2 linked regions of the Homo sapiens genome follow. The protein of the gene in region 1 purifies or fractionates together with the protein of each later gene. This does not show direct contact. Each region holds a gene or a part of one and is shown on either strand. Other genes may lie near its edges.

Region 1 (3,828 bases):
TCCCTGAGAACGACAGCCTTCCCCCACCCTCCCAATGGAGAAGAGCCAATACCTCAGTGAGTATCATTTCCCTTCTTTCCTAGCTCCCTACGGGGAAGGAGCCTAGCCTCTAAGTGCATGATGACTTGCAGGGTGGGCTTGAGCTTGGCAGAAGCAACCTTCTCCAGAGGAATCCGACCTTTATTTTTTAACAGCCCTCTTGGAAGGAGGGGTTGGTTTGACACTTCCTTTTTTTTTTTTTTTTTAATTTTTTACCACACTAAATGATTATCTTCATTTTCTTAAAGAAATGTCTTATTTAGGACAACTTCTAAAAGGCTAAAGGACTCACAAACAAAATGTGCCACTGTGGGGCAGGATGTCAAGAGTGGGGCAGGTCACACATGTGCGCCACTGCACTCCAGCCTGTTGACAGAGCGAGACTCTATCTCAAAAAAAAAAAAAAAGTTGATTAATTAAAAAAATAAAGCTTTAAAAAGGTCCACAAAGCCTAAAGGGTGATAACGAGTGCCAACAGCTGAGTACCAACCAGGTCAGAGGACTCAGTTGTGAAATACTCAGTACTCCAGCAAGGAAAAAACACCCTGTGACAGCCCCAAGGTCTTCTGTATTCTCGCTGTAAGCCCAATTTGCTCACGGAAAAATTTAAATAGCACATCCTTAAACAAGTCCCAGATACTCTGGCACTTTCCACTGATAGGCTGCAAAGGGCTTACCATTGAGAGTGACTAGTAGAAGGCTCTTGGTTTTGTTCTTTTGTGTGTTAAGCAGCCATTTCCAGTTGCTTCTGATTCTTATGGCCAGCCTCATTACAAGGTACTACTGCACTTCTGACATCACTGTCCCATCAGTGACTTCATAATTCTAATTATTGCTGCAGTTCTATATCTCCAAAGACTTCTAGTAAATCTTAAGAGACTTAGGGTCAGGAAGCTCTAATGATTTTTCCTCCTCATCTTACTAGTACTCCATAGTCCAAGGAAATAAAATAAATGACTAGATCTATAGTCTTCTGATTTACCCAGGGAAAGGGGCAACATGGACCTCCTGATTTACAGCCAGTTGGTCTGAAAGCACAGATAGGACAAGCTGGGGCTTGCAATTGGCATCAGAAGTTGGGCGCAGTCTTGTAGGACTGAGCCCTGAACCTGTGAGATCTCACCCTATCTCCAGACATAAAGTGTCAGGATGGAACTGAATCAGAAGACACTCAGCTGATGTCTGCTGCAGAACTGATTGATTGGCTGTTGGCAGGAAGAAAGACTCACATACTTAATTTGCTTTCCCTTAAGAAAAAATTTGTCAGCTGGGTACAGTGGTTCACACCTGTAATCCCAGCACTTTGAAAGGATGAGGCAGGAGGACTGCTTGAACCTAGGAGTTTGAGACGAGCCTGGGCAACAAAGTGAGATCCTACCTGTACAAAAAATAAAAAAATTAAGGCCAAGGCAGACGGATCACGAGGTCAGGAGATCGAGATCATCCTGGCTAACACGGTGAAATCCCGTCTCTACTAAAAAATACAAAAAATTAGCCGGGCGTGGTGGTGGGCGCCTGTAGTCCCAGCTGAGCAGAGATCGCACCACTGCACTCTAGCCTGGGTGACAGAGCAAGACTCTGTCTCAAAAAAATAAATAAATAAAAAATAAATAAAATAAAAATTAAAAAAATAAAAAAATTAGCCTGGCATGGTGCTGCATGCCTGTAGTTCCAGCTACACAGGAGGCTGAGGCAGGAGGATCGCTTGAGCCCAGGAAGTTGAGGCTAGAGTGAGCTGTGTTTGCACCACTGCACTCCAGCCTGGGTGACACAGCAAGACTGTGTCTCAAAAAAAAAGAAAAAACTAGTCAAGCAATAACAACCATAAGATCTAACCTAGGTCTCTAATTACATGTGTGATATAGAAGGGTAGGAAAGATAAAATAGAAATTTTGCATACAATGAGAAATAAATAAAAGTTAATGTTAATATTAGGGCAATCACAAAAATGGCATACTGTAAGCTTTAGTATTTTTCTCATTTATTTAATGAAGTATACGCCAGTATTTTACCTTGTTTTTAATCAGCTTGGCTCTTTGAGCAAAGTTAAGTGTTGATAGGGTTTCCCCAAAACACCTGGATCCAGGATGAACATTTGCAATTATGGCTGTTTTGGCATTACCTCCAAGGGAATCCTGTTTAATGATAGGAATGAACATATTTTCGGTGAGAAATCACAAGACCTTTTTAAGCAAAGAAAATGTATACTCTTGCCACCAAGGCTGAGAGACTGTCCCACTATCAACTTTAGCATAACCAAAAGGAGCCCAGGAACCCAAGGATCTACTTTACCCGTAGTAAGAAGGTAAGTTTGGAGTCTCTGTAGCAAACATGTCTCTGTTTTCCATTACCCACGTCGACAAGTGCTGTAATCACTTGGCCCAGGCAGCTCAATGATCGATTTATGTTACCTGCTTCCTAAAGTGTTGACGGAAAAGAACAAAAATTTAGGTACGTTGGTTACTCTTTGGTATTTTGAATGAAAATATATCTAGCAGAGGAAAATTCTGGATGAAAAGGCAAGTCAGGGACAATGTTAATAAAGAACAACTATTCAACAAATAAAAAAGAAGTGCTGAACTATCCCTAACCTTTTCCTATTTGATGTACACTGTAATTTTAGTATTAGAAGACAAACACAGGCTGGCACTGTGGCTCATGCTAGTCATCCCAGCACTTTGGGAGGCCGAGGTGGGCAGGTTGCTTGAGCTCAGGAGTTGGATACCAGCCTGGGCAACATGGCAAAACCCCATCTCTACAAAGAAATACAAAAAACTGCTGGGCATGGTGGCACATGCCTGTAGTCCCAGCTACTTGGGAGGCTGAGGTGGGAGGATCACTTGAGCTTGGGAGGTGGAGGTTGCAGTGAGCTGAGATTGTGCCATTGCACTACAACCTGGGTGACAGAGTGAGACCCTCTCTCAAAAACAACAACAAAAAAAGACAAACACAAAAATCATGCAAAGAAAAAAAATATTAATGTCACTTCATGATTGTAATAGTTTGAAACCGAGCTATAAAGACCAGAAAAAAATAGGGAAAAAAAAGCTAGAGTAGTGCATTAATAGGTACTTTTTTCAATCCTTTTATGCTAAAATATTTAAGGGTATAATGCCTAATAACTCACCCATACAGCCCCCAAAGCCACTGATGAACTTATTTGAGGAGAATATTCAGTTTAATTCTGTAAAGGATAATAAAAACTACTTTAAAACAGAAGCTTGGTGGGGGGAAAAAATGAGCTAAATACGTTACATTAGATTTTTACTGTAGGTAGCATATTTTGAAAACTGGGTCTGCAGTGGAAGGAGTATACAAAAAAGAGAAAAAGTCAAAATTATAATGCAAGATGTACTGAATTCAGAGTCACTGCTGTTATCATTCAGTAAATCAGAAAGGTGGTTAGTGGCATGGTTGAGAGTACTGTAGCAGCTCGGTTTGAATCTCAGCTCTACCTTTATTAGCTGTGTGACTTCGGTTTCTTTAACTGTAAAATAGAAAGAATAGCACCTACTTCCCAGAGTTGTTGGGAAGGTTAAATGAATTAATATATGTAAAGCATTTTAGAACAGACTTGGTATATGTCCTATTATAAGCATATGCTTTTTTTGACACAGAGTCTCACTCTGTCACCCAGGTTGGAGCACAGTGGCACAATCACAGCTCACTGCAATCTCGACCTCCTGGGTTCGAGGGATCCTCCCACCTCAGCCTCCCAGGTGCTAGGATTACAGGCATAAGCCACCATGCTCAACCCATATGCTATATTTATTAAGCCTCATATCTCAA
Region 2 (3,828 bases), on another chromosome or scaffold:
AGAGCTTATGTTCCCATGAATTATAAAATGGCATTTTGAGTAATTCTATTAATCACAGAAGATATTGAGTGTGCTTGTAAAGAGCATGATGACTGATTTCCTCCCATTGTTGATTTATTAAATTAGTCTTATCACATTGATTTGAAAGCATGCACTTGCTGTTTTCTTTTTTCAAATAGTTAATTGTTTTGCATTTAGAGCATGATTTGGTATAGTAAGATAAATGTGGCTATGCAAGCCTTGGAAGGAGAAGCATTTATCTCACATAATTTTTTATTAGTTATGTTCACCAATATACGAACAGTGGTGACACTTCTACACATACAGCTTGGAACAGTTTATAAGACAACTAAAATGGCTTTATATTTCTAATCATAAAATATTAATGGCCTATGAAACTCTTATGTAGGCATTTCTAAAAACATGAATGTATATTGGTTGAGTACATAAAGTTTTGTTGATGAGCCCCAAGGCTAAAGATATACATTTTAGAATTTTACCTATTTTAAGTCAGATACAAACTCACTAGGTTTGTGAGTTTGTATCTAGTTAAGTCAATTGTATTCGTATATTAAACTCTTGCACATAAACTACACAACAGTTAGCTCATTAAGAGTCAATTGAATGTGACAAAATTTTTAAGCAAGTTTGAACATGCTAAGAGAAAATACTTTAAGTGTGTTATTCAGGTTTCTTAGCTTCCTATACATGGGTCCCGCCTCATGCATAGGCAATTTAATTATGTCTTTGTATATTTTGCATTTAAATATGATTTTAACCTAAGTTGTACAAAAAGATGAGGGACGCAAATTATTTTGATAAATAACTGCAGCCAGAAGTGCACTATACATATATATTGATATTTTAATAATGTCTGCACCATGAACAGGATTTGAGGTCTCAAAGAAGAAAAAAGGCTCTAGAAATTTCTCATCAGTGGTATCAGTACAAGAGGCAGGCTGATGATCTCCTGAAATGCTTGGATGACATTGAAAAAAAATTAGCCAGCCTACCTGAGCCCAGAGATGAAAGGAAAATAAAGGTAATGTTGTTTTAGAATGTCAATACCAGATTTTATTATACAGTTTAATTAACCTGTGAAGATCATATTTAAAATGTTGATGTTCTTGTTTCTATTAACGTTCTCTTTGATTTGATGCATTTCCTTGTATTGTGTGTTGTTTTCAGTAAATGTATTGTATTAAGTGTTATTCAATTGACGTAATGTTGAATGAATAAAATGTTTTAGACTATGTAAAGTGATTTAAGAAATGTGATGTGTTTTCTGGTAAAATTGTAATTGACTTTGTGTATCTTTGTTCCAGATGAACTAATGACTTATCGGTATATGGACGACTTCTTACTCATGTTAGCCCATTCATTTCATCAGAGCATCTTCACACATCAGTGTTCACTCTCTATAGATTTATTTGCATATTGTCTAAATATGTTTTTTTCTGTTATTATTTTACACTTTTTATTTTGCTTCATTCTCTGTTGAGTTCCTCAAACCTTTAAAAAGGAAATAAATAACTTATTCACTTACCCTCTAAATTATATTCTATGTGGACGGTCCCTAATAAATAATGAGTTATCACTCCAAATTGTTTCAAATCCCAAGACACCAGAGGAATTTAGAAGAAAGAAAATGTTAGACCAATTTCAATATTTACTTAATTAGAATATCTAAAACCAAGCATTCAAAGGATAACTGAAATAATATTTGGGTTATTGAGCGAGGATGACAGTCATGCCTTTCATATTTGTAAACTTCAAAGGATGACAATAAAGGGACAACAGCCTTTGAAATTTTGAGAGAAGTATTTGCTGCTTGCAAGTCGGTTGATGTGGTTAGCTAACTGCCCTGGGCCCTGTATTGGTTTTGCTCAATAGGAAATTGATCGGGAATTGCAGAAGAAGAAAGAGGAGCTGAATGCAGTGCGTAGGCAAGCTGAGGGCTTGTCTGAGGATGGGGCCGCAATGGCAGTGGAGCCAACTCAGATCCAGCTCAGCAAGCGCTGGCGGGAAATTGAGAGCAAATTTGCTCAGTTTCGAAGACTCAACTTTGCACAAATTGTGAGTTGTTACTGGCAAACCCACGTATGTGTTTGCAACTACTACTCTATTAACAGAGGCCTACTAATAAAAAAAAAAGAGACAAAAAATCTGGGTACAGTTTTAAACTTCTAATGTACATTCTGAAAGTGAGTGGTTTCCCTCACTTTGGGCTTCTGTAACACTAGTGCTTAATTTTGCCAATTAAAGACACAAGAAATTAACAGATAACAGGGAAAACCCCTTATCAAAAATGAAAATACATCTTAATTTTTTTTGCTACATCATTTTTCATAACATTGGCAATGTTAATTTGTCAATTTATCATACATTCACTTTACTTCAATGTCTAATCCAAAAAATATGTATTGCTTTCCTGAGATCATCCCATGCTGATTTTACTTTCTTAATGTATACATGATAAATAATAAATATTTCATGGTACATCTTATGTCAACCTGCATAAGCCATTATCTCATTGACTTGAAGAATAATAGCTTAATCCTCACACCTGGTTTAACTACTTAATGGGTTACAGTGCCCATAAAAGAACTGGATGCCTAGTAAGATGGTTGCTAATTGATTGCAGATTGAACAATATCAGATAATGTTATTACTGAAATGTTACCAGCCAAAACAAAAAGGAGTGACTGCTCTTCTTTCAAACAACTGAATGGAAAGTGTATGGTTCTCTCTTTAAAAAGGCGATTCAGAATTGTTAGCTTGGTCTCACTTCTTTATTTGTAGTAGGTATAAACCATAGAGGTTTTCTGACAGGTACATTTTTGTTCCTATTATTAACACTTGTAAGATGAAGAGGAATGATCATCATCTGTAATTATAGAAGAAAGTACTCCTCACAAAACCAGGATGTCAAAATCTGGAAACTAAGTCTTTATAGTTAAGTTAGGTTGAATTATATGAATCAAACAGATACTCAACCATTTTGCCCTATGTAAATAATAACTGCATAGGGTTCAGCCCATGTATGAGACTTCTTGGGAACTTCTTCTGTGATAGTGTCAGTTCCATTTAATTTGGTGTATATTTTTAAAATGTCAAAAGCAGTTACCATAACTTAATTTTATAAGCATATAAGGGAAGTATGTTGCATATTATTGTGACTTCTTTTAATACTTCAAGAAAATTAATAAATACACTGTTTTCTGTTAAATCTAATACCCTAAAGTTTAATAGCAGGTGAATTATTCTGAGCAATTGGAAGAATACGAGAAATAGCGAAACTGTATTGCATGTGAAGTCTAATTCCACCTGGCTGAATGTTTCAGCCTATTATCCTTCATATTAGATGTTATGAATGTAATGTGTCATAAATAACCTTACACTAACCAGCAAGCCTGTGTCTGCAGATGCAAAATGAAGCGAAAGATTAAGGCAATCAAAAAGAAAATTCTAATAAAATAGTTTCACCTCAATTTAATAGATCATTCAAGGGGGAGTCCTTTGCTTTGAATTATCTGACTACTAACTCATTTCTCCATTCCAATTTTCCCCAGGTCTTGACACACCCAATATGCAGGTTTAAAATTCGTTACAAACTAATCAAGTTGCTAATGCTTTATGGCTAAATAGGCACAGGATCAAAAATCTCCATAAACCACTTACTTAAAATGCCATTATGTCCCTATTCATAGTAGGCTCTCAACAAATATTTGTACAACGTAATAATGACTGGTGAAATAAAGGAAGCATGTGTGAACCAGTATATATTTTTAAAAAATTGTAGTAAAATTCTGGGATATATTTTCCTCA

The links.
Region 2: the proteins of KIF15 (region 1) and DMD purify together in Homo sapiens (affinity purification with mass spectrometry; one large-scale study listed by BioGRID and IntAct). This does not show direct contact.

What each region holds. Positions count from the first base shown.
Region 1 is NC_000003.12:44,796,180-44,800,007, reverse strand, and holds part of KIF15 (kinesin-like protein KIF15), read right to left. Parts: intron 2,458-3,828; coding exon 2,332-2,457; intron 2,175-2,331; coding exon 2,052-2,174; intron 814-2,051; exon of another isoform or gene 720-813; coding exon of another isoform or gene 717-719; intron 1-716. UniProt on the Homo sapiens protein: Plus-end directed kinesin-like motor enzyme involved in mitotic spindle assembly.
Region 2 is NC_000023.11:32,340,348-32,344,175, reverse strand, and holds part of DMD (dystrophin), read left to right. Parts: intron 1-889; coding exon 890-1,042; intron 1,043-1,325; coding exon of another isoform or gene 1,326-1,334; exon of another isoform or gene 1,335-1,809; intron 1,810-1,893; coding exon 1,894-2,076; intron 2,077-3,828. UniProt on the Homo sapiens protein: Anchors the extracellular matrix to the cytoskeleton via F-actin. Ligand for dystroglycan.